Regions from separate parts of the Homo sapiens genome. Here regions 1, 2, 3, 5 and 6 are each linked to region 4. The links come from fine-mapping of genetic effects on gene expression. A gene starts in region 4. Each other region holds a variant in brackets. All regions are shown on one strand. Distances are between the middles of the regions. Region 1 overlaps VOPP1 (VOPP1 WW domain binding protein). Region 2 has its middle 130 kb from the start of VOPP1-DT. Region 3 has its middle 12 kb from the start of LANCL2. Region 4 holds the start of VOPP1 (VOPP1 WW domain binding protein). Region 5 overlaps LANCL2 (LanC like glutathione S-transferase 2). Region 6 overlaps VOPP1 (VOPP1 WW domain binding protein).

Region 1 (5,072 bases), 100 kb before region 4:
GGATTAAACAGCATTAAGATGCTTCTCAGACTGTTCAATATACTTGTGTGCACTGCCCGTCTCCCAGGGATGGACACAGTTGTGATCCCCAAATGCTCTACAGACTTTTAGGGGAGGGACCATGCTCTAGGACCCATGCTTTAAGAAGGCAAAAATAAACCAAGCACTGTGGCTCATGCCTGTAATCCCACGGCTTTGGGAAGTGGGAGGATCGCTTGAGCCTAGAGGTTTGAGGCTGCAGTGAGCTATGATTGAACCACTGCATGCCAGGCTGGGTGACAGAACAAGACCCTGTCTCTAAAAAAACAAAAAGGAAGCAAAATAGAAAATGCTTCTTTGCAAACATTATGTCAATTAGTGATACATCTAAAATACATCTTGAGAGGCTGGGGTAGGAGAATTGCTTGAGGCCAATGGTTTGAGACCAGCCTGGGAAACGCAGTGAGACCCCATCTCTAAAACACAAAATAAAATAAAAAATAAATAATTAAAATGCAGTTTAACTGTAGCAGCTACACCCTTCAGCAGCATCTGTGAGAGAAGTGTTATTTCTGACCAAGCAGAGCTGTGTTTTAAGATGAAGGCTCCCCGACCTGTGAAAAACAGCCCTAGCTCAAGGTTAACTTACAGTATCAACAGTACATTACTTCAGCGATGCTTCTGTCTTCCTACCCACTGGGGACAATTGTCTCCATAGCTTGTATCTTACATTCTCAAATAACATCTAGTTTCTGGTTCCCCTGAGACCAGGTGCATCCTCCACCCACCTCACCCCACTGAACCAAGGATCTGCTGTACACCCTTCCTCATTAGAAACTTCATCTCCACCCTCTTTCCCACTCCCCCAACAAAACAATCAAAGCACATGCCCAAATTTATTTTTATTTTGCACACATAGGAAACAGGATCCTATCAAAAGAGAACAAAAAAGAGAAACGAGCCAATTGTTGCAGAGGAAAAGCATGCACAGATCTGCTTCAAGTTTACTCTGAACCACGGACGCTCCGGGAATTCTACACACCAGGAGCTGTCTCACTCCAGGAAGTGGGCACAACCCACCATCCACACAATGGAAACAAGAATGGCCAGGAAATGTCACCGAAGTGGGACTTCCATATGCAGGATCAGCGTTCACAGTAGCACAATTCTAACCAAGTTCAAGGGAAAACAAACTCTGTCTCACACAAACATGGGAATACAAAATTGTTGAGCCCTAGCCATCACTGTCTCTTAACATAATTTGCTATCAAAAAGACAAACGAAATTTAGTCACGGACTTTTGGGTGCCTATTCAGCTGCACCCGATTCCAGGGGCAGCTTAGTGTGCTTTTTCATTACAAAAAATAAAGACATTAAAAATGCAAAACAAATGACCTGGAGGAAGAGGAGTGTTTGGACCCACGCAGTTGTCTTGGTTGTAAACAGTGAACATTGTGCTTTGTTGTCTCATTTAGATGGAGGCCTGCAGCATGGGAGGTACCACGCTGGCAGTCAGCAGTCACACCAGGGTGGTCAGAGACACTGGTGGCAGCATCTGTGCTTGCAACTGCATTCCCAGGGTGTCTGTTTTGTTCCCAAGTGTCTCCCACAAAATTCCCCAGGAGGTTCTCCGATTAAATGTCCTCAGAGTGAAAAGCATGGACACCAAATCACTCCGTATCCACTTCCATGAGATGTCTTGATGCTCCAGTTCAATGAGTAACAATTTCTCAAGAGGCTCTGATTAGTTCATTAAAAAATAAGCACCCCCACCTCATTCCCCGTGATACAGCACATCTAGTAATCTAGGCGCCTCAGCTAAGCTGCATAGCTCTTAGCACACAGGACAGGTCAGCGTTCACACATCAACACTATAACTATGCGGCGGAACTAGCTCCCCGCTAGCCGTCAACTACTCAGGAGACTACCTGTGAGATCCTGGGGTGAGCTGTGATTCCTATCCAGGAATGTGCATTTCC[G/A]ACCACTTCTTCTTTATTCTAATTATGACAACATGGTCAGTGCAGTTGAGTCAGTACTTCTCCTGTCTTTTCCCAGCAAGCTCCTCCTCCTTGGAGCCCAGCACACACCCGCTTAGACCCAACACAACCTCAGAGAGAGACGCCTCAGCTGGTCTCTCTCCCTGGAAGAGTCCATGTGACTTCCCAGCCAGATGTGCCCCGTTTTGAAAGCACCCTTCAGAACCCACCACTGGAGCTGCCTGAGGGAAGGAGACCCCCGGGCCTGAGAATGCCCTGGAGAGGCAGTGATGTCCAGGGAAGACACACACCCAGTCTGATTTCAAAGGGCAGGACGCTCTACATGCACTTCCATAAACACACCAAAAAAATGGGTAACAGTCCTTTCTCCAAATCAGACCAAGAGCTCACAAAATGCAATGTCTCAGTTTGGGGCAGGAAGTGATTTCCCATGAATTTAAATAAATTTGCTTAGTGGATGTCAGATCACTGTCAGGCCTCCAAGGCAAGCCTGATTCTAGGCCCCATCCTGCGGTGAGAGCTGCACGTGCTACCCTTCCCTGGCGGTGCAGGAGAAGTCTATCTTTAGGATATGAACAGAGACAGAAACATGACAAGGGGCTTGCTCTCTCCTGAATGTCTCTCCAACAGCTTCTGGAAGAGGAAGGCTGACGAGAGGACAGGCTGGAGCAGATGACCTGCTGGGCTCAGCTCAGTCGGCTGCTGCTTCATCGGCTGAGCCGCCCGGCATGGGGCTTCCTATTAATACCCGGGCAGAAGGATGCTTGCCTGGGATGCTCGGCCTGGCCCCTCTACATGCCACCTGCACCTCCAGCACTGCCTTCTTCCTCTCAGTCTCTCTCCTGTAGATCTGGTCACGCCACCGTAAGGACGTCAGCCCTCGGGGACTGTCACCACACTACCATGTGAGAGCACAGACTGCGTCAGAAACAGAAGCAACAGAGGAGACAAAGTGTGAGTTCATATATTGTACTCCATGGAAAGCCTGAAAGAGAGCTGTGCTTGCTGTGAGGATATCAGAGGAACTGCCCTTAGCAGCCCACGAGACCGTTCCTGGAAGTGAACATCAACGAAGACAGAAAGGCCAGGGAAAGGCCCTCTCCTGTCTCTCCTCTTGCACGTGGGCACCCCACTACTTGGCCTTCACTACCTGTTCGTACGGGGGCGGAGGCGTGTTGCAGTAGGCTGGAGGGGGCGGGCAGGCCACACTCCCCTGGGGTGAGTTGGGTGGGACCTGGAAAGCCATTGCCATGGAATTCCCGACAGGGTTCATCCCCGGTCCTCCTGGGTCGGTGTAATAGGGCGGCCCCGGCTGCTGGGCTCCTGAAAGACAGACAAACATAGGTGAGCACAGAAGGGAAAGCCCCATCACACCGCAAGTATGTGCAGGCTGCAGGGCCAGCAGACCACGCCCCGTCATTCACTCAGCGACAGTGTATGAAGGACCCAACATGCCCGGTGAGGGGGCACCTGGGCTGTGGTGACAAGCAACACAATAGGCAGGTCCCTGCCCTCTCGGGGCTTTGATTCTACTGGACTACATTCCACGTTACCAGTTCACACATTAGGGTGGAGGAAACTGGGCCACAGTAAGGTGAGGCTGTCTGCGGTGAACTATCGGAAGAGCTGCAAAGACCACCCAGGCTTCGCGACTCAGCCTGGCATTATCGCAGGAGCTCCACAACCCCTCTGGGCACGCCATTGGCTGGTGACCATTTCTGAAGTAAGGTCTCCATTCTCCCTGCCGGGCTAGTGTGCCCTCAGGGCAGGAGTTACTCACAGGCAGGGAGGCCGTGCACCTGGGCACACATAGCCAGGCTGCAGCTGATTGACGCTCCATGGGTCAGGAGCGGAGCCGCAGGCTGACTCCCTAGTGACAAGCTGAGGAGCAGGGCACGGGGGCACCACAGAAGGTGACAGGAGGGTACAGGCTGGACACCCGACCCCAAATCTAGCCCTCACTCTGAGGTGCTGTTTTCAGTGTGCTTACTGTGATCATGCAGATTAACACTATAGAATTATGCATATGTAAATAAAGAATCAGACAAAACCGTGAAAGTGCTGGGTGTTCCCTGGGTATAGCTGATTTTGTGACAGGACTCAGGTGTTTTTGAAGTGAGGCTTCCTTTAGCTCAGGGAGACACTCAAGTGTCAAAGAAGCTGCCCCTGTGTGAATATTGTGTAGGGTTTTTTTTCTTTTTTTGCAATTCTCCCCCTGACACAGTGTGATATAGTTCTGACTCTAGAAACATGCCCATCAAGGTACACAAGATGTCCCAAAGCCCACATAAGTCAGACCATGGGAATCTGCGCATGTGCGGAAGGAGAGCATGTAGAACAGAAGCACAGGCCAGGCCTGCACTGTCTCTCACTGAGCGCTCTCAACTGCCAGGAGGGCACTCAGCACAGATGCCACCCTGTGTGAGAGGCTGCCTCGCCCTGCATCTGTGCCGTCCCACAGACACCACCTGAGTGAGATGCCGTGTGGTCCCACAGATGCCACCTGCGCTGCTCTGATGCATCTCACCCGCTGCCTTGGGTGTGTTCTATTTAGAAGTCGACTTACTGCCATTACCATGAGTTTCGCAAGGGCAGAGATTATGTTTTATTTAGATCTGGATCCTGCTATATGTTATACAATTAAAAAACCAAGGATTTTTAAAAAGAGGGCATTGCAACAGTCTAAGCAAGACATTATGAAGGCTTCTGAATATTAGAGAAAAAATGGAGAAGAGAGAATGAGGCACTGAGGGCTGTCGGCAATGACTGGCCTGGGATTGACTCGATGGGGAGCGCACAGCGTGGGAGACAAGGGCTGAGAAGAAAAGGCCCTAGGTTCTGCTCACAATAAGGGCCCCCCAACAGGCAGGGCAATACAGGAGAACAGGGGCTCTGCAAGAATTAGCGCCTTACCAAGGTCACACTACTGCTACAGCAGCACCAGGACAAGGGCGGGGCAGATGAAAAAGTCCCTGCTGGACTGGAGAGGGCGGAGGCAGCTCTGGAGCTGGAGCCTCCTGTGGGAAGGTGGTGGTGGAAACATGGGCATGTCCAGGAGAAGGCTGCAGGAAGGAGCAGCACTGAGGCCAGGAGAGG
Region 2 (5,089 bases), 130 kb after region 4:
GAGGGAGCAGCCATTAAAATACATAGCATAGAAAGTTGTTCACAACGTATCTGTTGTTCACCACAAATTGGATGAAGAGAGAAATCACAAAGTAATACGCATAGACAATCCCGTGTTTGTCCGTATTGATTAGTGTAGGTGGGCATTTTTTTTTTAAACCTATACATACACTCAAAGGTACAGAAGGACATTCACTTCATGGCTGCATTTGTTTCCTACTGTTGCTGCAGCAAAATACCACAAACCTGTTGGCTTAAAACAACGCAAACGGATTCCCCTAATTCTGGAAGGCAGAAGCATAAATTCAAGGTATTGTTAGGGATATGTGTTCCTTTTGGAGGCTGCCGGGGAGAATGTGTTTCCATCTTTTCCAGCCTCTCGGGGCCACCTTCATTCCCTGACAGGGTCCTCCTTCTGTATCTTCTAAGTCAGCAGTTTAGCACTTTTTCCCCGGTCTGACCGCCTGCCTCCCTTTTACAAAGACTGTTGCAAGTATTTTGAGGCCACCTGGATAATCTAGGATACTATTCCTATCTCAAGATCCTTTATCAAATCTGTAAAGTCCCTTTTATTAAGGTAACAGGAGGCTAGGCATGGTGGCTCACACCTGTCATCCCAGCACTTCAGAAGGCCAAGGTGGGAGGATTGCTTGAGCTCAGGAGTTCCAGACAGGCCTGGGAAACATAGCAAGACCATGTCTGTCTTTACAAAAAAAAAAAAAAAATTGCTTTTGAATTAGCCGTGCATGGTAGCACACACATGTAGTCCTAGCTACTCAGGAGGCTGATGCAGGAGGATCACTTTAACACAGAAGCTGGAGGCTGCAGTGAGTTAGGAGCTTATCTTACCACCGCACTCCAGCCTGGGCAACAGAACAAGACTTTGTCTCAAAACAAAATAAAGTAAGGTAACATACTCACAGGTTCTGGGGATTAGAACATAGATACTTGGAGGGGCTGAATATTCTGCCTACCAGATTAAGATTAACAATATTTATTTCTGGCATGGCATGGCGCTCACATCTATAATCCCAGCACTTTGGGAAGCCAAGGTGGGCAGATCACTTGAGGCCAGGAGTTTGAAACTAGCCTGGCCAACACAGTGAAACCCCGTCTCCACTGAAAATTTAAAAAAAAATTAGCCAGGCGTGGTGGCACATGCCTGTAGTCCCAGCTACTTGGGAGGCTAAGGCATGAGACTCACCTGAACCCAGGAGGCAGAGGTTGCAGTGAGCCAAGATCGTGCCACTGTACTCCAGACTGGGTGACAGAATGAGACTCAAAAAAAAAAAAAAAAAAAGAAAAAAAGGAAAAAAAATATTTATTTCTGGGTGGCAGGATTTCTTTGCTTAACTGTATTTTCTTTTCCTAAGTCAACATGTATGATTTGTGTAACTTTTAAAAGGAAGTGTGGTATGAGGGTGACAAAAATGTTCTAAAACAGGATTATAGTGATGGCTACATAACCCACTAAATGTTCTAAAAGTCACTAAATTGTATACTTAAATGGGTGAATTCTATAATACATAAAACAAAAACCAAAGAGGGGCTTTTGCACTTACTTTCAATGGCTCAGCCTAAAATAAATAAATAAATATAAAAAGAGATCAAATATAGCAAAATGTTAACAATTGGCAACACAAAGTGGAATTCACTGTAACGTGCTTTCGACTTTGGTGTAGGATTTAACATTTTCAAAAGGTAAAGGAAAATGGGCAGAGAAACAAGGAGAAATAACAGGACAACTCTAGAAACTAAACCTATTTGGGGATTCCAGTCTTAAGCTGGACTTTAGCTTCAATATTTTGGCTCTCAAGAAGCTCTGTGCAGGGTGCGGTTGTGCGTGCCTGTAGTGCCAGCTACTCCGAAGGCTGAGGCAAGAGGATCACTTGAGGCCAAGAGTTCAGGCCATAGTACAAGATGATCACACACTACACTTTCCAGCCTGTTCGACAGAGGGAGACCCTATCTCAAAAAGAAAGAAGAAAAAGAAAAAGAAGCCCTGTTCCAAGCAATGTGGAAGCAGCCACAGTTAGTGAGGAAGGCAGGTGAGGCTGATGCTCACCTCTTCCTTCCTCTCCATACCCCAGGTGAGGGGGGACCACAATCCTTCGCTTCTCTCCAATGCAAACACCAAGTAGACCTTCATCCATCCCAGGAATCACGTAGCCCTGCCCAATGTACGTGTCAAACGTGCGGTTCTGAGAGTAGCTAGAAAAGAAGAAAGGAAAGAAAGAGGTCATTCATGAGGGCCTCCACAGCAGCTGTGCAAATTAGTTGGGAAAGAGATGCAAAGGCACACAGAGGCCTCCAGACTCCGGAACAGCGTAAACCACAGTATCTGATGACACAGCCAGGAAACATGCTCCCCTGGAA[G/A]GGTAAATAGGAACCCCCACACAGCATGTGAACAGCCACCTGTAGAGACACGCCGTGTGGCCCTCCAGTTTCGTCAGGTTATGAATGCAGTGTGGGTTATGAGAAGCACCACACAGAAATGGAGCTAATGTAAATTGAACGCTATACTTTCTTTTTCTGAGGCAAGGTCTCACTCTGTCACCCAGGCTGGTGTGCAGTGGCACCATCATAGACAGCTCACTGCAGCCTCAACCTCCCAGGCTCAAGCAATCCTCCCACCTCAGCCTCCCAAGTAGCTGAGACTACAAGCACATGCTACCACACCTAGGTAATAAATTTTTTTTTTTGTAGAGATGGGGTCCCACTATGTTGCTCAGCCTGGTCTTGAGCTCCTGGATCACGTGATCCTCCTGCCTCGGCCTCCCAAAGTGCTGGGTTGACAGGCATGAGCCACCGTGCCCAGCCTGTACACTCTATAACCACGTCAAGTTAATGAAAACAATCAAGCTCTCAACCAGCCTGGGCAACATGGCAAAACTCTGTCACTACAAAATTACAAAACTTAGCTGGATGTGGTGGCACACACCTATAGTCCCAGCTACTCAGGAGGCTGAAGTCAGAGGACTGCTTGTGCCGGAGAGGTTGAGGTTGCAGTGAGCCAAGATCACAAGACTGCACTCCAGCGTGGGTGACAGAGTGAGACCCTATCTTGAAAACAAAAAACAGAATCGAACGTAGCCCTTATCAGAAACTACGAATGTGTCACAAGGATAATGTCTCCAATATCTAAAGAGAAAATATCTGCATATGTGGGACATGAATATTCTGTTTTTATTTTCTAATTACTTTTTAATTTTTTTTTTTTTTTGAGACAGGGTCTTGCTCTGTCTCCCAGGCTGGAGTGAAGTGGTCTGGTCTCAGCTCACTGCAGCCTCAACCTCCTGGGCTCAAGTGATCCTTCCACCTCAGCCCCTCAAGTGGCTGGGGCTACAGCATTCAATACCATGCCTGGCTCATTTTTGTATTTTTAGTAGAGACAGGGTTTCACCACATTGCCCAGGTTGGTCTCGAACTCCTGGGCTCAAGCGATCTGCCTGCGCTGGCCTCCGAAAGTGTGGAATTACAGGCCTGAGCCATAGCACCCAGCCTGACATGAAGATTCCGATCGCCAGGAAAGCAGCATACACACTGAGAGTAATGAATTCCGCACTCTCCACCACAGCCCGACAAAAGGCCCCCACTATCATCCCTGCTCACCCCGCCACCCTGGTGAATACTTGGGTTTTCCAAGTGCTCCTGGCAGGAGCCCCAAGTCCACTCAGTGGAGAGATCCAGCCTGTGTGTAAACTGCCGAGTGAGTCTATTACCATGAGTTTGGTAAAAAGAGGAATCAATTCCCCACAGCATAATGATTCCAGAATAAAATAATAAAACTTCATATGCCACAAGTCCACTATCAAACTGGACCACGTGACCTGCACCCCTTCCCCACACCACCTGGTGCCGATGAGGCAGAAAGCCTGTCCTGAAAGAGCCAATCGGTCCTGCCCTTCCCTCACCTCAAAGCCAGGGCATGATGCCCTGGAGAAGAGGGACCGCCAAGCGGGGCCAGGCTGATACACAGGCAGAGCTGTGGGGGTTCTCCCTTCTCAATACCCCTCAGAGACCACAAAGTCATGGGGCACAAAGAAAGAATCACAACAGATGTCTCTCCTCACCCAGGAAGCAGGAGATTGTCCACATAAACTCCCAGACGAGGCTGTGAGTCCCCCTTCCCACCCACTGAGAACAGCACCCCACGCTGAGCAGCTCCAGGCCTCCTCCTGGTGCACTGGCCAGGAAGGCCTGGAGGGGAACACAGCAGGGAAGAGGAGGACCGTGTCGGCTCCCAGCATGCTTCAGCCAGAGCAGGGCTCACCCTCCCGAGGTTCCCACCTGCAGGACCCTGGGGATCACCAGCAATGTGCAGCCACTGCCAGACATTCAGGGAAGAGAAGGATACCTACGTGGTGGGCTCCCGACAAAGGGACACCAAGTAGTGAGAGAGATGGCAGGTACCCACAGCGGGGATTGCTGCCCACTGGAATAGTTGCAAAGATTCCATGGCAGAGGGGAGATAGCAGACACCGAAGGCTGTGGGATCTGCCTAAGGGAAGAGCAATGGTCTGGCAGCAAGGGCCAAGCCGAGAGGCAGGATATAAGAGCCTCAGAAGGAGAGACGGAATGGCGGGGTGGGCTTGAATTGTAGTGAATGCTGAATAAAAGTTAAAAACAAGTAAATGCAAAACCATCCTGTTCCCCAATAGAAAAGCAAAGTCGTCAGTCCTCCCCTAAACTAACTTATAAGTTCTTTTATCTTTTCTTTTTTTTGAGACACAGTCTCACTCTGTCGCTGAGGCTGGAATGCAATGGTAAGATCTTGGCTCACTGCAACCTCCGTCTCCCGGGTTCAAGCGATTCTCCTGCCTCAGCCTCCCAAGTAGTTGGGGTTACAGGCATGCACCACCACACTCAGCTAATTTTTGTATTTTTGGTAGAGACGGGGTTTCACCATGTTGGCCAGGCTGGTCTTGAACTCCTGTCTTCAAGTGATCCACCTGCCTTGGCCTCCCAAAGTGCTGGGATTACAGGTGTAAGCCATCATGCCTGGCCTAAGCCACCACGGCTGGCCCAAACTAACTTACAAATTTTAAAGCAATTCCAATCAAAATCCTGGGGGTGTGTATCTGGTGGTG
Region 3 (5,089 bases), 220 kb before region 4:
TCAAAAAAAAAAAAAAGGGCCAATCAAAAGCCCTCAGGGCTGCTCTGCCTATGAAGTAGCCATTATTTTATTCTTTTACTTTCTTAATAAGCTTGCTTTCCCATTACTCTATAGACTCGCCTGGAATTCTTTCTTGCAGAGATCCAAGAACCCTCTCTTGGGGTCTGGATTGGGACATTTTTCTGGTCACACAAGCACTTCATGTCCTCCTTTTCCCTTGTAGGGTCCCAGGGGCTGCTAGCCATGGCCTAGCACAGTGCAGCACAGGGAGCACCACACACATCCTCAGCTGTGCTCCCAGGGATGCCTCCTGCACAGTCCAGTGTGAACAGCTGCCCAGAGCCAAGAAGGGCAGTGTTGCTCCACACGGGCAGTTGGCAGCCACGTGGTAGCTATTGAGATCTTCTTGTTTTTCATTATTTACTAAAACAAACAAACACTTATATGTCTAATAATAGATAAAATAAATTCTCGTAGATCATACAATGGCATATGAAGCCAATAAAATTATGTTACAGAAGAGTATTTAATGACAGAAAAACATTCATGATTTATTGCTAGATAACATGATAAAATTTGAACATAATAGGTAAAAAGACAAAAATGTGTAGTATAAAATAAAATTTCAGGACCCTCTAAATTTATTTTGCCAAGGAAGGAAGTTAAGCTCTGGAGACAGTAGCATGTTTGCAATTTCGCTTCTTAGATTATAGCTTAACCCTCTTCCTCATTGCTCTTTTCCTGTAAATGCCTAGGAGAGACCAGAGACCAGATATTCCCCCTTCCAATCACTGATCTTTGTTATAGATTAACTGTCTTTATTGTCCAGTTCCTAACCCAGACCAATGGCACCCAAGACCCCATGACAGTTACATCTTCAGGGTGGAATGTTAAATATACCTTTCCCTGAAAGAAACGTACCATCTGGACTAATCATATCATTGTATTTTAACTATACATTAAGTCTTCCATAGAAAGACACTGAAATTCTGTTAAAGCGCCCTAAGCTTTGTCCATGTAAACGATCCCAAACTTCTACACTCTGGAGCACTGACTTCCGTTCTTTGAAATCTGGGCTTCCTGGGTGGCCTGTCCTCAATCTTTGCACTTGAATAAACTTGCTTTAAACTAGAGTCTGACCTTTTTATTATTATTATTATTTTAGGTTGATTACAGGCACTGGAACATGACCAAAAGCAGGCAGTAACTAGAGTGGAGTCAGGCCATGAGAATCAGGAACCACAGTGTGTAAGATTTGCCATATGCAGCATTTGGCCTCCAGGTCCTCCCCAGTTCACACGGAGCTCAGTGCAGCTGGAAACCTCAGTCTTACTGGCTTGATGTGTCAGATGACAAAATTTAGACTGGCAGAACAGCTGGAAAGTTATGAAGAAATCCTGGAAAGGAGAAAACCACAGAGGAAATAAACCCTTACATCTGATTATAAGCTCCGCCTAAATTCTGGGCTGACTTGATAAACTATAGTCAACGAAAAGAGTCAAACTGTGTAAAATATTTGAAGAGATTTATTCTGAGCCAAATATGAGTGACCATGGCCCGTGACACAGCCCTCAGGAGGTCCTGACATCGTGTGCCCAAGGTGGTCGCGGTACAGCTTGGTTTTACATAGTTTTAGGGAGGCATGAGACATCAATCAAATACATTTAAGAAATACATTGGTTTGGTTCTGGCCAGGCACGGTGACTCACGCCTGTAATCCCAGCACTTTGGGAGGCAGAGGCAGGCAGATCACGAGGTCAGGAGATCAAGACCATCCTGGCTAACACGGTGAAACCCCATCTCTACTGAAAATACAAAAAATTAGCCGGGCGTGGTGGCGGGCATCTGTAGTCCCAGCTATTCAGGAGGCTGAGGCAGGAGAATGGTGTGAACCCAGGAGGCGGAGCTTGCAGTGAACTTAGATTGCGCCACTGCACTCCAGTCTGGGTGACAAAGCAAGACTCCGTCTCAAAAAAAAAAAAAAAAAATTGTGGGCCAGGCACAGTGGTTCATGCCCATAATCCCAGTGCTTTGGGAGACCGAGGCAGGCAGATCACTTGAGGCCAGGAATTTGAGACCAGCCTGGCCAACATGGTGATACTCTGTCTCTACTAAAAATACAAAAATTGGCTGGGTGCAGTGGCTCATGCCTGTAATCCCAGCACTTTGGGAGGCCGAGGAGGGAAGATCACCTGAGGTCAGGAGTTTGAGACCAGCCTGGCTGGTGAAACCCCGTCTCTACTAAAAATACAACAATTAGCCAGACGTGGTGGCGTACACCTGTAATCCCAGCTACTCGGGAGGCTAAGGCAGGAGAATCGCTTGAACCCGGGAGGTGGAGTTTGAGTGAGCTGAGATTGCGCCACTGCGCTCCAGCCTGGGTGACAGAGCAAGACTCTGTCTCAAAAAAAAAAAAAAAAAAATTAGCCGGGCATGGTGACACATGCTTGTAATCCCAGCTACTCAGGAGGCTGAAGCAGAATTGCTTGAACCCGGGAGGCAGAGGTTGCAGTGAGCCGAGATTGCGCCACTGTACCTCAGCCTGGGTGACAGAGTGACACTCCGTCTAAAAAAAAAAAAAAGATACAGGATTGTGGAGACCAAGTTCTGCAGCACAGAGAAATCTCTCAGATAGTGGATTTCAGAGAGACTGCAGGTTGTAAAATGTTTCTTATTAGACCTAAAAGGGAGCCTGGCTCTTAGTTGATTATCTCCTGGATCTGGAAAGAAAGGAAGGAAAACAAAGGGGAAAGAGGATTCTCTATAGGATGTGGATTTTTCCCACAAGAGACATTGCAGGGCAATTTTAAGGTATGGCAGGGAAATATATTTTGGGGTTAAATGTTTTTTTCTTGTCTCATAATGTTATGCCAGAGTCAGATTAAAAAGTAAGTTACAATATAT[A/G]GGGTCAAAACCCGTCTGATGAGAATTTATGGTTTGTAGGGCATGACTCCCTAGACCCCTTAGGTAGGAAGTTGGGCAAGATAAAAAATCAGAGCTTAGTCCTCACTACATAAACACGGGGAAGATCCCCGTGGGGCCAGCAAAAAAGTAACAAATGAAAACTAAAAGAATAGATATTTCATCTACTTCCCACTGCAGGTTGTTAAAGAAAAACTAGAGTTGGACAGTTGTTACAGCAGTAAAGATTTTATTCAGGAACTATTGCAATAGGGGAAAGGAGCCTCAGAATACAACTGGGCTCAAGTCTGAATACAGCAAAGACAAGTGGGAATTTACAGCTGTGAACTAAAAATTAAAATTCTAAGCCCCCCAACCATCTGAATGAACCCCTCTTCTTAGCCAAGGGCATTCCAAAGTTAACCTGAAAATGTAGTTCAGGCCATGATGGGAAGTGGGGGTTTGATGTGCCTGATTACCTTCCTCCCTTTGGAATTCAGGCACAACTGACCAGCATTAACATAAAAACAGAGATCTTAATACTTTTTGTAGCAATAAGATACCAAATTCCAGCCTGACTCTAGTATAGCATCACCTGACCGACAGCAGGCCCTGAAAGAAATCAGAGTATTTTACCCTAAAATGTATTTCTTCGACATATCTTGAAATGGCCCTGCAAAGCTATCTCTTGTAGGGAAAAAATCTACATTCTGTAGGGAATCCCCTTCCATTTCCAGGTCTTGGTCCTGATCCAGGAGAGAATTAACAGAGTCTGGCGGCTTTTTTAGTCTGATAAGAAACATTTATAAGCTATTCTCTGAAGCCTGCTACCAGAATCCTTCATCTGCATAATAAGAACCGTGGTCTCCACATCCCTTCTCTTAACCCAGACACTCCAAGTCTTTAGATAAACTGTTTCAACCAATTGCCAATCAGGAAATCTTCTTTGAATCCACCTGTAACCTAGAAGCAACACACTTCTCTACTTTGAGTTGTCCTGCCTTTCCAGATAGAACCAGTGTACATCTTCCATGTATTGACTGATGTCTTATGTCTCCCTAAAATGTATCAAACCAAGTGTTAGCCAAACCACCCTGGCACATACTGTCAGGACCTCCTGAGGCTGTGTCACAGGCATATCCTTAAACTTGGCAGAATAAACTTTTAAATTGATTGAGCCTTGTCTCTGATACCTTTTGGTTTACATAGCCAAGGAGCAGGGTGGAGGTCAGTGGATGGAAAAGTATTAAGAAGAAACATCAGGGGCAAGGGGGTTCTGGTTACAGAGGTCTAACAGGACTCCTACTGAAGGCAGGCCAGGGTGATCAGAGGTCACCGGGAAGTTGGTGGAGAATGAGGAATTTGATCAGCTATTGAAGGTGACAGTAAACTGACTTGAGATTCTTGCTACAACTGGGCTCTTGAGGACAAGGCCTAAGGACGGGTCTTAGTCCAAAAAGAACTCAGAGGAGCCTATCTAGAGTTTGGCCAAAGACAGGATCTCTGTCAAGGAGACACCCAGGTTTGGAATTCTTTTTTATTTTATTAATTTCTTTAGAAGACATGTTTAGGCTGAATGAGGTAATCCCAGCATGCCTGTAATCTCAGCACTTTGGGAGGCCAAAGCAGGTGGATCACCTGAGGTCGGGAGTTTGAGACCAGCCTGACCAATATTGAGAAACCCTGTCTCTACTAAAAATACAAAAATTAGCTGGGCATGATAGTGCATGCCTGTAATCCCAGCTACTCGGGAGACTGAGGCAAGAGAATTCCTTGAACCCAGGAGGCGGAGGTTGCAGTGAGCCAAGATCGCTCCATTGCACTCCAGCCTGGGCAACAAGAGGGAAACTCCATCTTAAAAAAAAAAAAAAAAGACATGTTTAAAGATTATAACAGTGCATTGTGATGTTTATAACAGGTAGGTGTTAGGTATATGCTAACAATAATGCAATTTACAGGAGGTGTATATTGAGCTATATGCCATTATTTTATATATATATATATTTATTTATTTGTTTATTTATTTATTTAAGATGGAGTCTTGCTCTGTTGCCCAGGCTGGAGTGCAGTGGCGCGATCTTGGCTCATCGCAACCTCCACCTCCTGGGTTAAAGTGATTCTCCTGCCTCAGCCTCCCAAGTAGCTGGGATTACAGGCACCTACCACGGCGCCCAGCTAATTTTTGTAT
Region 4 (5,000 bases):
TGGATTGCCCTTCCTACTCAAGGACCTCTCACTAACACAGAAACCCCTGCGCATGTGAGATTCTGGATGGTGCTAGATAGGGCCAGGGTGCTGGGGGTGGGAACAGAGTCACCACTGCCACAAGGCCACCCCTTAATTTCAGGTGGTTTATGATCAACCACGTGGCAAATTTATACACTGAAACCAGCTCAGGCAGAACAAAGGAACAAAGACAAATTTCCCAGGTTGCAGCCGGCAGTCAGAAGCCAGAAGCCACCAAATAGCTCCCTGGGTTGCTTTTATGCACTCAACCTGAAGAGAGCCATTTGCCATGGCACATGCTCCACACCTACGACTGCACATCCATGTATGTGATTCAGGACTTCAGAAGCATCACAGGTATTCATCAGAGCACCCCACCAGAGATGAAAAAATCTCAAATATAAATCTCATACATAAAATTTCATGTGATAAATGATGAAGAAATCTCCTTAACTCCTCAGAGAGACGCCTCTCCAGCACAAAGTGGTGGTACTTAGGATAATCATCATGTCAAAGTGGGTGACATCACACTGTCCCCTCTGAAACAATCATCTAATATTTGACTGTGAAAGTATCATCTTAGGCATTTAGGTTTCAGTTTTACATCACACTTCTGCCTTTAAGGTCGTTTCAACTTTGCAGACATGATCTGAACTCCTATTAAGAGGATACATTCCTATGCAACGAAACAGCTATTTTGGAAAGAATGGAGTCACTGAGGCCGTCTAGGCTACATATAGGGCACAGAACCACTCAGACAGAAGGCTTGGGAGACATGGGTGGCACAAACTAGAATGAAAGAAACGCTAAATAATTTCATCAAGTGCCGATTAAAAAAGATTGCAGGGCCGGGCGCGGTGGCTCACCTTGTAATCCTAGCACTTTGGGAGGCCGAGGCGGGCGGATCACCTGAGGTCAGGAGTTCGAGACCAGCCTGACCAACATGACGAAACCCCGACTCTACTAAAAATGCAAAAATTAGCCGGGCATAGTGGTGGGCGCCTGTAGTCCCCGCTACTGGGGAGGCTGAAGCAGGAGAATAGCTTGAACCCAGGAGGCGGAGATTGCAGTGAGCCAAGATCGCGCCACAGCACTCAAGCCTGGGCCACAGAACGAGACTCCATCTCAAAACTAAAGAAATAAATAAATAAAAATAAAAAATAAAGATTGCAAGTATAGGTACACACATTAAGGTACAAGCACATCTGTTTTCATGCGATTACTGGTCTCTGATTCACTTCTTTGTTCTCTATGGTGAGTCACTCAGAGAATGTGATTCCTAAGGTTCTAAAATTCTGAATAAATGGAAAGAATGCAAGCAGAGGCACTCCACAAAAACATTAAATACCAAGCTACGGGGATATTTCCGAACAGAAACAGGAAGTCTCGGCTATGGCAGAGCCTGGAGCAAGGAGAAATTTGTCCACCAGCCTTCCTTTCAGGAAACACTTTTCCTCCAACATTTTGTAATAATTACTTTTTAATAAAGGGCGAAGACAAACTAGTAATTTCCAGCACCAATCACTAACTATTAAGGAAGATAGTTTCACAACTTCCTAAAACAGAGGCATGGGATTCATTACCTATTTCTTTTGACTTCATTAATTTAACGCAAATTTCCTTCAGAATAATGAAACTAAGGAGAAAGTTGAACAAGCCCTGATTCAGACTGGACACCCCAGAATTCCTCTAGTTCGCATTTTAAGGAACCTGCTTTAGTGAGAAGTATGTGGCCCCATCCGAGGATGCAATTTCACAGCCAGGAGCAGCCGCGGTCCCCGCCAGGGATGCGGTCACGGGCGCTCGCACCCGGAAGCCGCTCAACAAGTTCCCCGCCGGCTTCGGCTCCGCACCCCCACCCAGCCAGGCTCTCCGCAGAATTTCCTCCCCGCACCTAAAGGCTGCACTTCATTTTCACACGCGGGAACGCCTCCTCCCGCTGCTCACCTCCACAACTCCCGGCACTCCCGCGACACTTCCCCACAGTCCCCTCCGCCCGCTCCCCTCACCCCGGCTCGGCACCCATCCTTTCCTAACCCCAAACTGCCCGGCGCCCCGGGCTCTCCGCGCCTGCGCCGCGCCCGAGGACCACCCCCGCCCAACCCCGGGTCCATCCGATCCTCGGCCCTCTGCGGCGGGGAGAGGGGGCGGACGGTGCACAAAGGTCACCCCGAGCTAACGGAGGCGGTCGGCGCGGGAAACGCGCTCACCCGCAGGGTGGGGGCGGGGTGCGAAAACCGAAGGAACGACGGAAGGCGCGGACCGGGGCGGGAGCCTCCCCGTCACCAGGGTCCCGCACCTCCCAGCTCCGGGAGGCGCGCAGGGCTGTGGCTCCCCGTCGCTCCACCGTCTGCGCTCCCAGGCAAGGTCCTCTGGGGCGCCTCGGAACTGCGCGCCCCCAGCCGCCAGCATGGTGGGCGCCGCGCCTCCGGCAGCACCCGGTCCCCGGCCCCTACCTCCAAGAGCAGCCCGAGCAGCAGCGCCGCCACCTTCGCAGGCTGGCGCCTCATGGCTCCTCGCGTCCTCTCCAGCGCGCCCGGACGCCGGGTCGCAGGCGCGCTTCGCGACTCGGCCCCCGCGCGGGGCGGGCGGGCAGACTGCAGCCGGGAGCCGTCCCGCCGACCGCTGGGGGGCCCGGCTGGGAGCGGGCGGGAGCCGGGGCGCGCCGCGCAGCCCTGGCTGCGCTCCGCCCCCGGCCGCCGCGCGCTCCCGACACGCCCGGCCGGGCGCGCGCCTGCGGGCTCCCGGAACCCGAGGCCCGGCCTGGGGCGCGGCTGCTGGGCGCTAGGCCCGCGACGCTGAGGTGCGCGCGCCCCGGGCGGGAGGAGGGGCTGCACCGCCTGGCGAATGGGAGGGGGACTGGCAGGCTCTCCCTTCCCAAGGGAGGTCGTCCTGTCGCCCTAGACTAAACCCAGGAAGGCTTTTAAAAGAAGCAGAGTCTCCGCGGGGGGAAGCTTGTTCCCTGAGAGGTGGCCGCAGACGAACCCACTGCTCAGTCTGGCATCCCGAAGCCGCTCCGCTCCTGGCTCTCCCCGCTGTTCCTGCGCGCAGCGGGGGCAGTGCCCCCACACCCACGCGTGATGGGAAGGCCGGCCTGGGGGTGGGAAGGCCCACCGAAATAGATGGTCCCCACACCTCACTGCTTCCTTGGATGTGGCTATTTTTTATGCCAGTGTTCTCCTGCTCTGACCCTACTTGAACTTGACCGCAACCGGCCCCGCCTTGCAGGCCACCCTCCCGCAGCAGAAAACTGTGCGGAGCTCGCGCTGTCCTCGCCTCCGCTGACCCCACCTCCATGTCCTCACAGACACTATTTTTTCACAACACAGCTCAGATCCCACCTTCTTCATGAGGTTATTCAACAAACACTATTAAACTTGTAAGATGTACCAGATCCTGAGTTGGAGGCTGAGAGGAGGACAAGAAAACTGCTCCCGTAGCCTAGAGGGAGGGAGAGTCGCTTAAACCACCTGATGCAGAATGCTGAGTGCGGAGACCAGGAGGTGGGTGCATCACAGAGGGTCATAAAGGACATGAGCTGCGCAGTACAGGAGGTGGAAGGAGGGGGTCACACGAACAGATGTCACCCGAGGCAAGTCCCCAACTCTTTCCCAGCTTTCAAAGCCTAATTTGATTAATATAGAGCATGCACCACCTGACTATACCTGTCAGAGCCAGAACTTACAAGTAAGACAGAAACAATGCCTATGGCCTTCAGTCATGCTAAGGCACCTATCTGACAAGCCTGCCAAACGCCATTGAACTCTAGTAGTTTTACTATTTACAATGAGGACATTTTACAACTCTTTTTAATGGAAAAGTTAACTTGTAGAAAACTAAGCTGAAAGCTTATTGTGTGTTAGCAAGACAAATGTTTTTCCAGTGGGGATAGAAGTGATCTCGTCCTGTAAAAATGCAAATGGGCCAGGCAGGGTGGCTCATGCCTATCATCCCAGCAGTCTGGGAAGCTGAGGTGTGAGAATTGCTTGAGCCCAGGAGTTCACCAACCCCAACCTGGGCAACACAGCAAGAACCTGTCTCCATTAAAACGTGTGTGTGTGTGTGTGTGTGTGTGTGTATAAGACAAATGACCCCTGCTTAAGGTGAGAATCATAACCAGCTTCCTATCTGATTGAGCCACTTCATTCCCAGCGTTTCCTTTCTCTTTTCTCCCCGCTTTTGACTGTGTGTGTAGGTCACTTGCCTGCATTCTCCTTTGAAGCACCTTTGTCATCCCACTGTTTCCATCATTAATGGGTTAAAATGGAACTTTGACTTGTGTCCACGATGTATTCGTGTGCAAATTGTGGTTCTGTTGCATTGTGAGCAACCTACTAGTGTCTGACATAACCTCCCTTCTGCATCTCTCTCTGCCTGGAAGATTGTTTTGCTGAGCTCGACTTCCTGTAATTTGTGCAAGTTTTTTTCCAAGAATAAAATTAGAACTGTGACTCTGCTTTCACCTCAGTCTGATACCTCTCCTGTGTGCTCTCTGTTTGGTCCTGAATGATGTGGTGGTTGCTTGGCATGGTTGGAGGATGGGGTGTAGGCTAACCAGCCAGGCTGTTTCCTTGAGCACAAATTATAAGGGCATCAGATACCACTGAAAAAGTTACAAGATAAAGCTGCATTCACTAGAACAACTGTTAAAGTTGGACTTGGGGTTAGAAGAAAGTTCTTGATGAGTTGTTTGGGGCAGGACTGGACATGTCCTGGTCTGCTCAGCTGCCCCTGAGGAGTAAGGACCCAGAGCCTGGAGCATGTGTGTTGCCAAAGGAAACAAATAAGAGAGAGACTGGGCTTGACCTGTAGCTTCCCTGCAAAACTGTGGAGTCTACATGAATGATGAACATGTATTTCATTTATTCAATAAATATTTATCTGCATCTGTTTTGGGCCAGGCACTATTCTGGACATTTCGGATACAGCCCTGAGTAAAATAGACAAAGCAGTGGCATAAAAGGCAGAGTGGCTGCTGT
Region 5 (5,073 bases), 140 kb before region 4:
GATGCGGGTGTCTCCCCAGGTGAGTCCATCCACACACGTTTGAAAAACACTATTAGTCTTTCTAACACACTGAGGGAAAGATTAAAATCTGTGGAATAAAGGAGGAGATTTTATTTACAGATTTTTTTAAAAGCCACCTGGGTTGACACCTTCCTACTTATCCACTAGATGTCATCAGAGGTGCTGTTCCGTGGTTCTGCATTAACCCCTGCCTCATGTCTGTAACATGTGACAGTAATTCCAGCTCGGTCCCTCCAGGCAAAGGAGAAACGGGACTTACTTCACAGGACAGAGGATTGACAGAAGTCAGTTTAAGATAAGTGTTTGAATCAGATTTCAGTACATCTCATTCATTTCTTAGATTTGTATTCACAATTGTGTTCTCTAAAATGTGTCTAAATTTTAAAAATATGTACATGCATAATGTCATTTTAAAATCTGAAGGAAAGAATTTGAAGTCCACAAAAAGTGTTTGAGGTTCTTTGGTTTTGTTAGTAAAAGCCAGTTCTGTGGTGATGACCTATGGAATCGTCATTCGTTTTCATTTCTCCGTGTTTGAGAGTGACATTGGTTAGGAGCAATGGCGACTGTTCCGAAGGTTGGATTCTTCACTTAAAAATGCGGCAGTTGCGGCTGGGCATGGTGGTTCATGCCTGTAATCCCAGCACTTTGGGAGGCCGAGTTGGGCGGATGATGAGACCATACTGGCCAACATGGTGCAACCCCATCTCTACTAAAAATATAAAAATTAGCTGGGCGTGGTGGCGGACACTGTAGTCCCAGCTACTCGGGAGGCTGAGGCAGGAGAATCGCGTGAACTGGGGAGGTGGAGGTTGGAGGTTGCACTGAGCTGAGATCACAACACTGCACTCCAGCCTGGTGACAGAAGGAGACTCCATCTCAAAAAAAAAAAAGTGGCAGTTGCTCGCCTTATGATGTTCTAGTTGCAGGTTTCTTTTTCTTTCTTTTTTTTTTTTTTTTTTGAGACTGAGTTTCACTCTTGTTTCCCAGGCTGGAGTGCAATGGCGCAATCTTGGCTCACTGCAACCTCCACCTCCCAGGTTCAAGCGATTCTCCTGCCTCAGCCTCCCGAGTACCTGGGATTATAGGCGCGAGCCACCATGCTTGGCTAATTTTGTATTTTTAGTAGAGATGGGGTTTCACCGTATCAGCCAGGTTGGCCTCGAACTCCTGACCTCAGGAGATCCACCCGCCTCAGCCTCCCAAAGTGCTGGTATTACAGGCGTGAGCCACTGCGCTCAGCCCTAGTTGCAGGTTTCTATCTATAAGTACATTCTTTTTGATTCCAACAACAAGACCTTTGGAACCCTGGGTCAGAAGAGCCACATCTATCAAGCTCCCTCCTTGTGATGGGCCCTTTGTTTTCACAGCAGCACTGGGAAGGGGGACTGTTGTAATTAACACTTTCTCACAGACGAGACAGTGCCAGACTTGCCCAGCATCTCACAGCCCGCGTGTGGGACAGTCGGGTCAGACTCAGGTGCTGCTCATGGTGCTAAGTTGCACCCACTCCCTCTTCCCCTGGGTGCTCGATGCAGAAGGAAAGCCACGGAAACCCAGGAAGGCCCTGCGACATGACCATGAGCACATGGCTAGTGAACAGAAAAGCAGGACGGACCATATAGGGCTGCTTCCTCTGGCCCTGTCATATCTGCTCCCCCACAGCCTTCTAGGTGGGGAGGGACCCTACAGCCATTTGTCGGAATTGAAACTGCTTTTTAGCTTAGGCAGTTTTCACATCTGTTGCTTCATTTGCTAAATTTACAAATACAATGGTCCAAGTTTAAAGTCCAGGTTCCCTAAGACGTCTTTACAAACCATCTCCACTCCCGCCCAGGCTCTGCGCCGCGACTTCTATGGCTCTACCTTTCATGAGCCTCATAGTCTGGTGAGAGACTGGATGTGTAATGTGGATGGGACCATTGGTGGTCCTCAGGAGGCATTGAGCCCACTACGTTGCATGCAGAATTCTGTGTGCATATGATTACTGACATGGAGAGAGGGTTCCCAGTTTTCATTACCGCTTCAAAGCGGTGTGTGACCCGAAAAAGGTGAAGTTTCAGGCTGGGGGGTAAAGAAGTGTGTGTGGGCCAGCCGGGCTTCAAAGCATGGAGCCGGGGGTGCTGTGGGAGGCGGACATGGCAGCAGGATTGGATCAGGAGGTGCCGTCGCATTTAGGAAGACCCCTCCTGTGGTAGAAGATGCTGCCAGCAGGTCCTGACTTTTCCACATCAGTGTCAAAGTCCAGCGTGACCAAGTCCCTGGTGCCTGTCAGCCTCTTCTCTGCTTCCTGGTACACAGCTGTGGGCATAGGAAGTGGTGGTCCAGGCAGCACAGTACGCAGCCCCGAGTGAGCCGGCCAGTGCGCTTCTGGAAGGCTATTCCATCCATTGTCT[C/T]CTGTCAGAGGCAGGGCTCCTTTATGATCCTGTTTTACCCAGGCTGCAGCTCCCCAGAGGCTGAGGCGCAGGGGCTCTCAGATGCCTGGGGCTATCCTGAGATCAGTCGGCTTCACAAATCTGACTGTTCCCAGCTCCCTCTCCCGTTTGGAGGTGGGAAGCTCGGTTCTTCTGCTCAGCAAATGCTTACGGAGCATCCACACTGTGCCAGGCATTGTGCTGAGTGCTGTGAGTGGAATGATGAAAAACCACCCTGGCTCCTGTCCTCAGTCAGCATCGCATCAGGCCTGAGGAACCTCTGCAGCACGGCAGAAGCCTTGAGCTGAGCTCAGACTCAGAGGGCCTCCCTCAGAAGGACCCCGGAGTGTTCCTCTGCAGTGAGGTGAGGACAGCTAGCTTCTGGGTGAAGGATGTTGTACGCCTCTTCCAGATAACAGCAGGAGGCGGACCAAAGGAAAGTGGGGGTCAGCTCAGCCTTGCAGTGTGACACCTTGTGGGCATGAAGGTGAAGGTGGTAGTCCCTGTCGTCAAGGAGTATATGGTCTACAAAGAAAGTAATAAATACATGTTTACATTTTACAGCCAACCCAGGGTGGTGTGTGTTAAGAGCAGAGACTCTGGAGCCTGGGAGCTTGTGTTCACCTCTGAGCTCACCTGTTCCCTGTGGGAACTTGGTCAAGTTATTTCTTGAGCCTCCATTTCTTCTCTATAAAATCAGGACAATGGTAATATCTACCTTATTTGGTAGGTGGGAGGATTTAAATGACAAATGGGAAAAGCCTCTAGTCCGTGTAAGTGCTCTGATGGGGCAGGTGAAGGTGCCGGTGATTGGCTTTCATGTGAGGAAGCACTCACCTGCCTGCATCGTGGAGGGAAATGCAGATCTGTCCTACTTCAAAGTCTCATGCCTCATCACAACCCCGTGTCAGTCCTCTGCTTGGCAGCCCTGGGCTTTCAGACAATTGTGCATGAGTGTGTGTGCATGAGTGTGTGTGTGTGCGTGTGTGTGCGTGCGTGGGTGTGTGTGCGTGTGTGCGTGCGTGTGCGTGTGTGCATGTGCATGCGTGTGTGTGCATGCATATGTGAATTGGTAACTGCCCCAGGATCCTTCAAGAGGAAAAGATGCTGCAGGAGCAAAGATGTCCTAAACCACAGTTTCAGGCTTATTCAAAATCCAGGAATTCAGAGAGACCAGGGTGTCAGCTGCTTTGGTGTTTTCTTGGGCATCCCAGGGAGCTTTCCCTGGTTCTGTGGCCCCCTCCACCCTCCTCCTTACTGTACAAGAGAAACTTGTGGCTTTCATAGGATCATCCAGCAGATACGCTGCTGCTCACATGTTGATAAAGATATTACCCCACTCTTAAAGTATTGCCCTAGGAGAATAAAACGTGTCCCGAGCAGCATAATCACACATTCATCTGTAAGTGTATAAGTATTCCTAAAGTTCCAAGAACTGACAAGGCCAGCCTTTCAGACCATTCCTAATGGAGGTGGCAGGGAAGTTACCAAACACTGTGCTCAGTTGCTGGAAACTAGGTGTGATCCCCAGGATAAGAGAGGGTGACCTACACACATCCTCTTGGCAAGCCAGAGGTGGCCTGGCTCCCGAGGAGTCCCCACGGAGGCCGCCTCGTAGCTGTAAGGAGGGCTGGGAGCATCTGCAGTACCTGCTCCCTCACAGCAGCTGAGGAACTTATTTTGAGTCCTTGTGTGCCAGAAAGATGTCTTTCATCTGCTCTGACACTGAAATCATAGTTTGACTGCTTAAAGGATTCTCGACTGGTTATCCTACTGATATCTCAAGGCATTGCTCTGCTGTCCTAAACCTTCCATTGCTGCCTGTGGGGATTTCATAGCCATTGGGATTCTTGTTTCTTTGTATTTGATCTTGCTTTGTATGATTGTTTTGCAAGTTGTAGGATTTTCATCTGATAATAGGCCTAGTCCTGGTTCTTAATGGGCCCTTCCAATCTGTAAATTCATGTCTTTCAATTCTAGGAAATTTTCTTGAGTTATTTCTTTACTGCCTCCACCCACCCTCTGTCCTTGTCTCTTTTTCTTGAACACCTGTTATTTGGATGTTAAGCCTCTTAATATAATCCCTGATTTTCTTTCTTCTGTTTTACACCCCTTTGTCTTTTTACTTTACTTTCTGAGAGATTTCAACTTTATCTTCCAGTCCTTCTATTGAATGTTTCATTTCGTTTTTCTTTTCTGGAATTTATTTTTTATATCAGTGTATCTTTTATATAGTATCCTGTTTGTATTTTTTTTTTTTTGGAGACGGAGTTTCTATCTTGTCGCCCAGGCTGGAGTACAGTGGCACGATCTCAGCTCACTGTAACCTCTGCCTCCCAGGTTCAAGTGATTCTCATGCCTCAGCCTCCCAAGTAGCTGGGATTACAGATTACAGGCGCCCCCAACCTCACCCGGCTAATTTTTTGTATTTTTAGTAGAGACAGGGTTTCACTATGTTGGCCAGGCTGATCTTGAACTCAGGTGATTCGTCTGCCTCGGCCCCCCAAAGTGCTGGGATTACAGGTGTGAGCCACTGCGCCTGGCCCTTCTTTGTATTTCTTGGTTTTGGTGTCTTATCTCTCCGAGGATGTTAATTTATCCAACTGGTTAATGTATCCAACTGAGTAAGTGCTTACTC
Region 6 (5,087 bases), 42 kb before region 4:
ATTTTTTGTTATACATTATAGGAAACAGAAAATAATATGGAAAGCCATGTACCGAAATACTGACAACTAATTATGTTTCAGTTGGTACTAGAGATGATTGTTTTCCACTATACATTTTGTTAGTCTCCAAGTTTCCTGTATGGAACCTGTACATTTTATTTTTAAATCTCTATTCAATTTTACTTTAAAATGCAGACCACTTAGTACCCAAAAAAGAAGTGAAAACTGGATATGAAAAGATATTTAAACCAGCCTGGTCAACATGGTAAAACCCCATCTGTACTAAAAATACAAAAATTAGCTGGGCGTGGTGGCGCATGCCTGTAATCCCAGCTACTCGGGAGGCTGAGGCAGGAAAAATCACTTGAACCCGGGAGGCGGAGGTTGCAGTGAGCTGAGATCGCACTACTGCACTCCGGCCTGGGCAACAGAGCAAGCTCTGTCTCAAAAAAAAAAAAGAAAAATATTTAAAATAAGAAAATATAACTGTTAACAAGAAAGAACATTCTCCAGCTAGGAATGAAATAAAAATAATAAAGTTTGTGAAATAATATACAAGGCTAGAAAGGGTGTACTCAAACAAATACAGAGTCAGCAATTAAAGCTGTATTCATAGAAAGTTTATCATGGAAAATGTTTATGTCATAGTTAATTTAAGACACATTATATATATTTAATTTCAACAATGTAAAAATAAACATATTCATAGGAGAAAGAATGTAACAGCATAAGCCTAAATTCACAGTGTTATATTTGGATGGTGTGATTTCTTTTTAAAATATCTCCCTACTGAAGCCTTCAATTCTGATGATAGAGGCTGTTGTGGCAAGAGACAAGGGACACATAAGAGTCCTCAATGGGCCGGGCACAGTGGCTCATGCCTGTAATCCCAGCACTTTGGGAGGCCAAGGCTGGCGGATCACAAGGTCAGGAGATGGAGACCATCCTGGCTAACACAGTGAAAACCCACCTCTACTAAAAATGGGCGTGGTGGCGCTCGCCTGTAGTCTCAGCTACTTGGGAGGCTGAGGCAGGAGAATCGCTTGAACCTGGGAGGCGGAGGTTACAGTGAGCTGAGATGGCGCCACTGCACTCCATCCTGGGTGACAGAGCAAGATTCCGTCTCAAAAAAAAAAAAAAAAAAAAAAAAAGAGTCCTCAATGAGTGCAAAAGACTGGATTCGCTGCAAGACCCAACACACATGTGCACCCAGGAGCTCCTACTCATGCCTGCTGAACAAAAGCGTTCTGAAAACTATGCTATCTTTTAAAACATAATTATCAATATAAATCACAATTCATGATACTTGAAGGATCAGGTGATCCAAGTTCTAGCTCAATTTACTTAGGTTTAGTTTATACACTATAAAATCACCCATTTTCAAGATATAGTTTGATGAGTTTTAGGAAATGTATACAGCTGTGCCTCCAACACCCCAATCCAGCTTCAGAACCTTTCCTTCACTTCAGAGAGTTCCCTCATGTTGTTCTGCAGTCAATTCCAACTCCTACCCCAGCGCCCCAAGCAATACTGATCTGCTTTCTATCTTTATCCATAGTCTTGCCTTTGCTATAAGGTTCAATTAAAGAAAATCATACAACTTACAGTCTCTTACGTCTGGATTGTATGTTGCTGCATATATCAGCAATTCATTCCTTTCTAGTGTTGAACAATATTCCATTCTATGAAGACACCACATTTTGTTTATCCATTCACCAGCCTATGGACATCTGGGTTGATACTGCATTTTGGCTGTTATCAATAATGCTGCCATATCCATTTGCACACAGGTCCTTGCATGGACAGATATCTTAATTTCTTGGGTACATACTAAGAAAAGTGGAATGGGTACGTACATTCCACTCCAAGACCTGGAGTGGAACTTCCAGGTCACACAGTAACTCCTTACCTAACTTGTTGAGAGACTGTCAAACTATTTTCCAAGGCAGCTGCACTACTTTACATTCCCATCAACAATGTAAGAGGGCTCCAGTCTCTCCACATCATCACTAACACTTATTATCTGTTTTTTGATATTAGCCATCTAGTACTGTACTGGTATCTCATCGTGATTTTAATTGGAATTTCCCTAATGACCAATGATGTAAGACTCTTTTCATTCCAGCTCAATCAGAAGGCAAAAAACAGTAGCTGCCATACATGGAATGCCTGTGATCCACTAGGTGCTTTTCATGTGAAATCTCACTTAACATTGTAACAACCCTGAGAGTTAGGTGGTTTACAAAAGAGCAAACTAAGGTCTCGAAGAGGTGAATTGACTTGCAAAGGTGACACAGGAGCAAGCTGAAAGTCGGCATTTGACTTCAGGTCTGTTGGTTTCCAAAGTCTGTGTGCTTTCTGTGGCAATGTCTACAAGCTGAAGTTTTCTGTGTCATCATAATCCACGACCCACCCTTTGGAATGTCTGTCACATCGTGTGCATGGAACAGGAATGAGATTTATTGTAGGCATTATTTTGCTGTATAGAAGAAAACTAAAATGACTGAATCCACATGAAAGACCCGATCTCCATGCCCCCAAAATAACCTTTTATGAGTTATTAGGAATTCTACCTTTCAGCATTCCTCACCTCTCAACACTGTCAATTACTGCATCTCCAGGAGCAGAAATCAAACACAAGTGTGTCCAGCAGCTTTGCTAAGGAAACTGTCTCTGCAATCAGCATGGCCAGCCCACCAGGAACAAACCACAAGAGAAAGGAAAGGAGCAAAGTCAAGGAGCCCAAAGCCCACCAGGGTGCAAACCATGAAGCATCCTTTCACTCTCAGAAATCACTTTTTAGATGCCAAAAATACTTAGAGGTGCCATTTTAGGCACAGAACTATATAAAATGAATATAAGGCCTGCAGCCAAAAGGGTTCATGTGACAAATTTTCCAAATGCCACAAAACATCATTCATTCAAAAAACTCATGAGTGGGAGACTTCATTAGAATAGCCTGAAAGCAGCGATAACAGATAGAAATATCAGTGCTACTGTTATCTGCTGGCAATAAATGAATATGATAAACCTTTGTTATCAGCTCAGTTCCAACAAAAGCAATGAACAGGACCAAACCTTTGAATGCTCTCCTTAAAGGCCTAATCCAGA[A/AT]TTTTTTTTTTTTTTTTTGAGAGGGAGTCTCGCTGTGTCGCCCATGCTGGAGTGCAGTGGTGCGATCTTGGCTCACTGCAACCTCTGCCTCCTGGGTTCAAGCGATTCTCTTGCCCCAGCCTCCCAAGTAGCTGGGATTACAGGCACGCGCCACCACACCCAACTAATTTTTTTGTATTTTTAGTAGAGATGGGGTTGCACCCTGTTGGCCAGGCTGGTCTCAAACCCCTGACCTCAGGGGATCCGCCCACCTCGGCCTCCCAAAGTGCTAGGATTACAGGCATGAGCCATCGCGCCCAGAAAAAGTCATCTTTTTTTGATGTAATTGCAGAGTGCAAGAGTAACATTATGAAAAAAAAGTCAACAGATCAGCTCTGCCACCTCCTAGTCTATGATTTGGGCACCCGGCTTTGATGATCTCATACATGTCTGAGAAGAGTAACAGGCTTGTTGTTTCCAACTACTATGCCCCCAAAATGAAATAACTGAGATATGTACCAAAAGACTACTCTCCTCCAGTTGGGCCTAAATCTTGGCCAGCAGATCCAAAACTCAACCACCACACTTAAGAGAAAATATCAACTTCTTACCTTTTGCAGACAGAAATGCCCAGAAAGATTAATAAGTGGAGCAGCTTCAAGGGCAAAATGCCAAAAAATGCATAAGGATTTTTGCATTTGGGTTGTGTACTACCCTACCTATTTGACTTCTATTTTAGAAGAAAAGTGTGTTGGATTCTCTGATGACATATATTTCTGTAAGTCTAGATTCTAACTGTAAAGAGCACAAGAAATTGAAAAGCTGAGATGTGACTAAAGTCTGACTAAAGGCTGAATAAATGATGGTGCCACCCACATTTAAAGACAATGTGACTTACTAGAATAAACACACACAGCACCTGCCGCATGCCTGCTTCTGTGCCTGAACAGTGACCCAACCATGGTCAGGTCACCGAAGGTCTCTAAGCTTTGGTTCTTTGTCTACAGACTGGAGAGAGGTATTTCTGTCTTGCCTTGAGGTTTACATGAAACAGTGTATGCGAACCACCTGGCGCATGCCCACTATTCTAAGAGCCTCCTGCTAAGTCGTTACATTGTGTGCTGTGTCGGTTTATTCTTGAGAATCATGGTCAAGTAAAGCTCAACCTAAAGATGCAGTTAACATTCTCTACAACGTACTTTTGTGTCTCTATGGAGAGTGAGAATATGGAACCTGTGATCCAAAATGAACCAGAAAAACAAACAAACAAAAAACAGAAGTTTAGAAACTACACTAGTTACAACCACCAGCTTGGAAATGATACCCTGGTGTGGAAAAATACAGCTCAAAGCAATCTGAGGGAGGCTCCTCCCCTTTCCATGGAAGTTTTCATGGCTTCTGGCACACCCTGTCAGCATTCTCTTCCCAGGAAGGTACTGGGAAGCACTGCCACGTGTACTCCTCTCATTCCTTTTCACTACTACCAAATTTCACACCCCCTCAATTCTAGTAATATGCATTTTCATTAAATCTGGTAATATTTAACCTGGAGTCAAAAAGCAATTTCTTGTGCTTAGAAGACTTTCTATTTCTTGTCATGAATTGATTGGTTATAAATGTTAAGGGACTAAGCTGTTACAGCAAATTTGGGGAGAAAGAGAGTCAGTTCCACGTGCTGCCCCAAAGCAGCATCTGTGTATCAGAAAATCTTCAGGGAGTCTCTGGCAGTGTGGAGGCCTAAGCTAAAACCAGGAGGACTGAGAACATATGTGCCAGGAAGGTGATTTTGATGCCAGTTCTGTCTCTCTCCTGAACCCAATCAACTCAATCATTTCTGTTTAACACAAACTCACATGAGTGCCTCCTAAAAGCTGGTTCAGTCAGCTGCCTCCAGGTCAGACCAGTGAGGATGGAGGCCGGTCACTCAGTGTTGTCTGTGGGTGCATGCAAGGGGCAGTGTGGTGCTCTTGAAAGGCAGTGCCCAAGGACAGCAGCAG

What was found. PIP is the estimated chance that this variant, and not a neighbour inherited with it, causes the effect.
Region 1: its variant is fine-mapped to the expression of VOPP1 in tibial artery (GTEx, PIP above 0.99). The same link has a PIP of 0.9 or more in fibroblasts, spleen, visceral fat and whole blood.
Region 2: its variant is fine-mapped to the expression of VOPP1 in whole blood (TOPMed, PIP above 0.99).
Region 3: its variant is fine-mapped to the expression of VOPP1 in whole blood (INTERVAL, PIP above 0.99).
Region 5: its variant is fine-mapped to the expression of VOPP1 in whole blood (TOPMed, PIP 0.98).
Region 6: its variant is fine-mapped to the expression of VOPP1 in whole blood (INTERVAL, PIP above 0.99).

The regions. Positions count from the first base shown.
Region 1 is chr7:55,469,747-55,474,818 of GRCh38, forward strand. VOPP1 (VOPP1 WW domain binding protein) reads right to left here. Exons shown (of 5, transcript NM_030796.5): 5 at 867-3,299. The coding sequence ends at 3,109. Among named protein-coding and RNA genes, the nearest start is that of VOPP1, 100 kb to the right of the region's middle. RefSeq lists an enhancer at 3,227-3,893. The variant G/A (reference allele first, on the strand shown) is at 1,959.
Region 2 is chr7:55,696,939-55,702,027 of GRCh38, forward strand. It overlaps the pseudogene FKBP9P1. Among named protein-coding and RNA genes, the nearest start is that of VOPP1-DT, 130 kb to the left of the region's middle. The variant G/A (reference allele first, on the strand shown) is at 2,376.
Region 3 is chr7:55,351,120-55,356,208 of GRCh38, forward strand. No RefSeq gene overlaps it. Among named protein-coding and RNA genes, the nearest start is that of LANCL2, 12 kb to the right of the region's middle. The variant A/G (reference allele first, on the strand shown) is at 2,905.
Region 4 is chr7:55,569,794-55,574,793 of GRCh38, forward strand. It overlaps VOPP1 (VOPP1 WW domain binding protein), which reads right to left and starts at 2,709. Exons shown (of 5, transcript NM_030796.5): 1 at 2,478-2,709. The coding sequence starts at 2,531. VOPP1-DT (VOPP1 divergent transcript) reads left to right here and starts at 2,973. Exons shown (of 17, transcript NR_187585.1): 1 at 2,973-3,524. RefSeq lists enhancers at 1,703-1,762, 4,092-4,171, 4,502-4,641 and a silencer at 1,963-2,942.
Region 5 is chr7:55,433,215-55,438,287 of GRCh38, forward strand. It overlaps LANCL2 (LanC like glutathione S-transferase 2), which reads left to right. Exons shown (of 9, transcript NM_018697.4): 9 at 1-523. It also overlaps a transcript of VOPP1 not described here. Among named protein-coding and RNA genes, the nearest start is that of LANCL2, 70 kb to the left of the region's middle. RefSeq lists enhancers at 90-139, 170-249. The variant C/T (reference allele first, on the strand shown) is at 2,418.
Region 6 is chr7:55,528,239-55,533,325 of GRCh38, forward strand. All of the region lies in intron 1 of VOPP1 (VOPP1 WW domain binding protein), which reads right to left. Among named protein-coding and RNA genes, the nearest start is that of VOPP1, 42 kb to the right of the region's middle. RefSeq lists enhancers at 2,113-2,162, 4,229-4,288. The variant A/AT (reference allele first, on the strand shown) is at 3,112.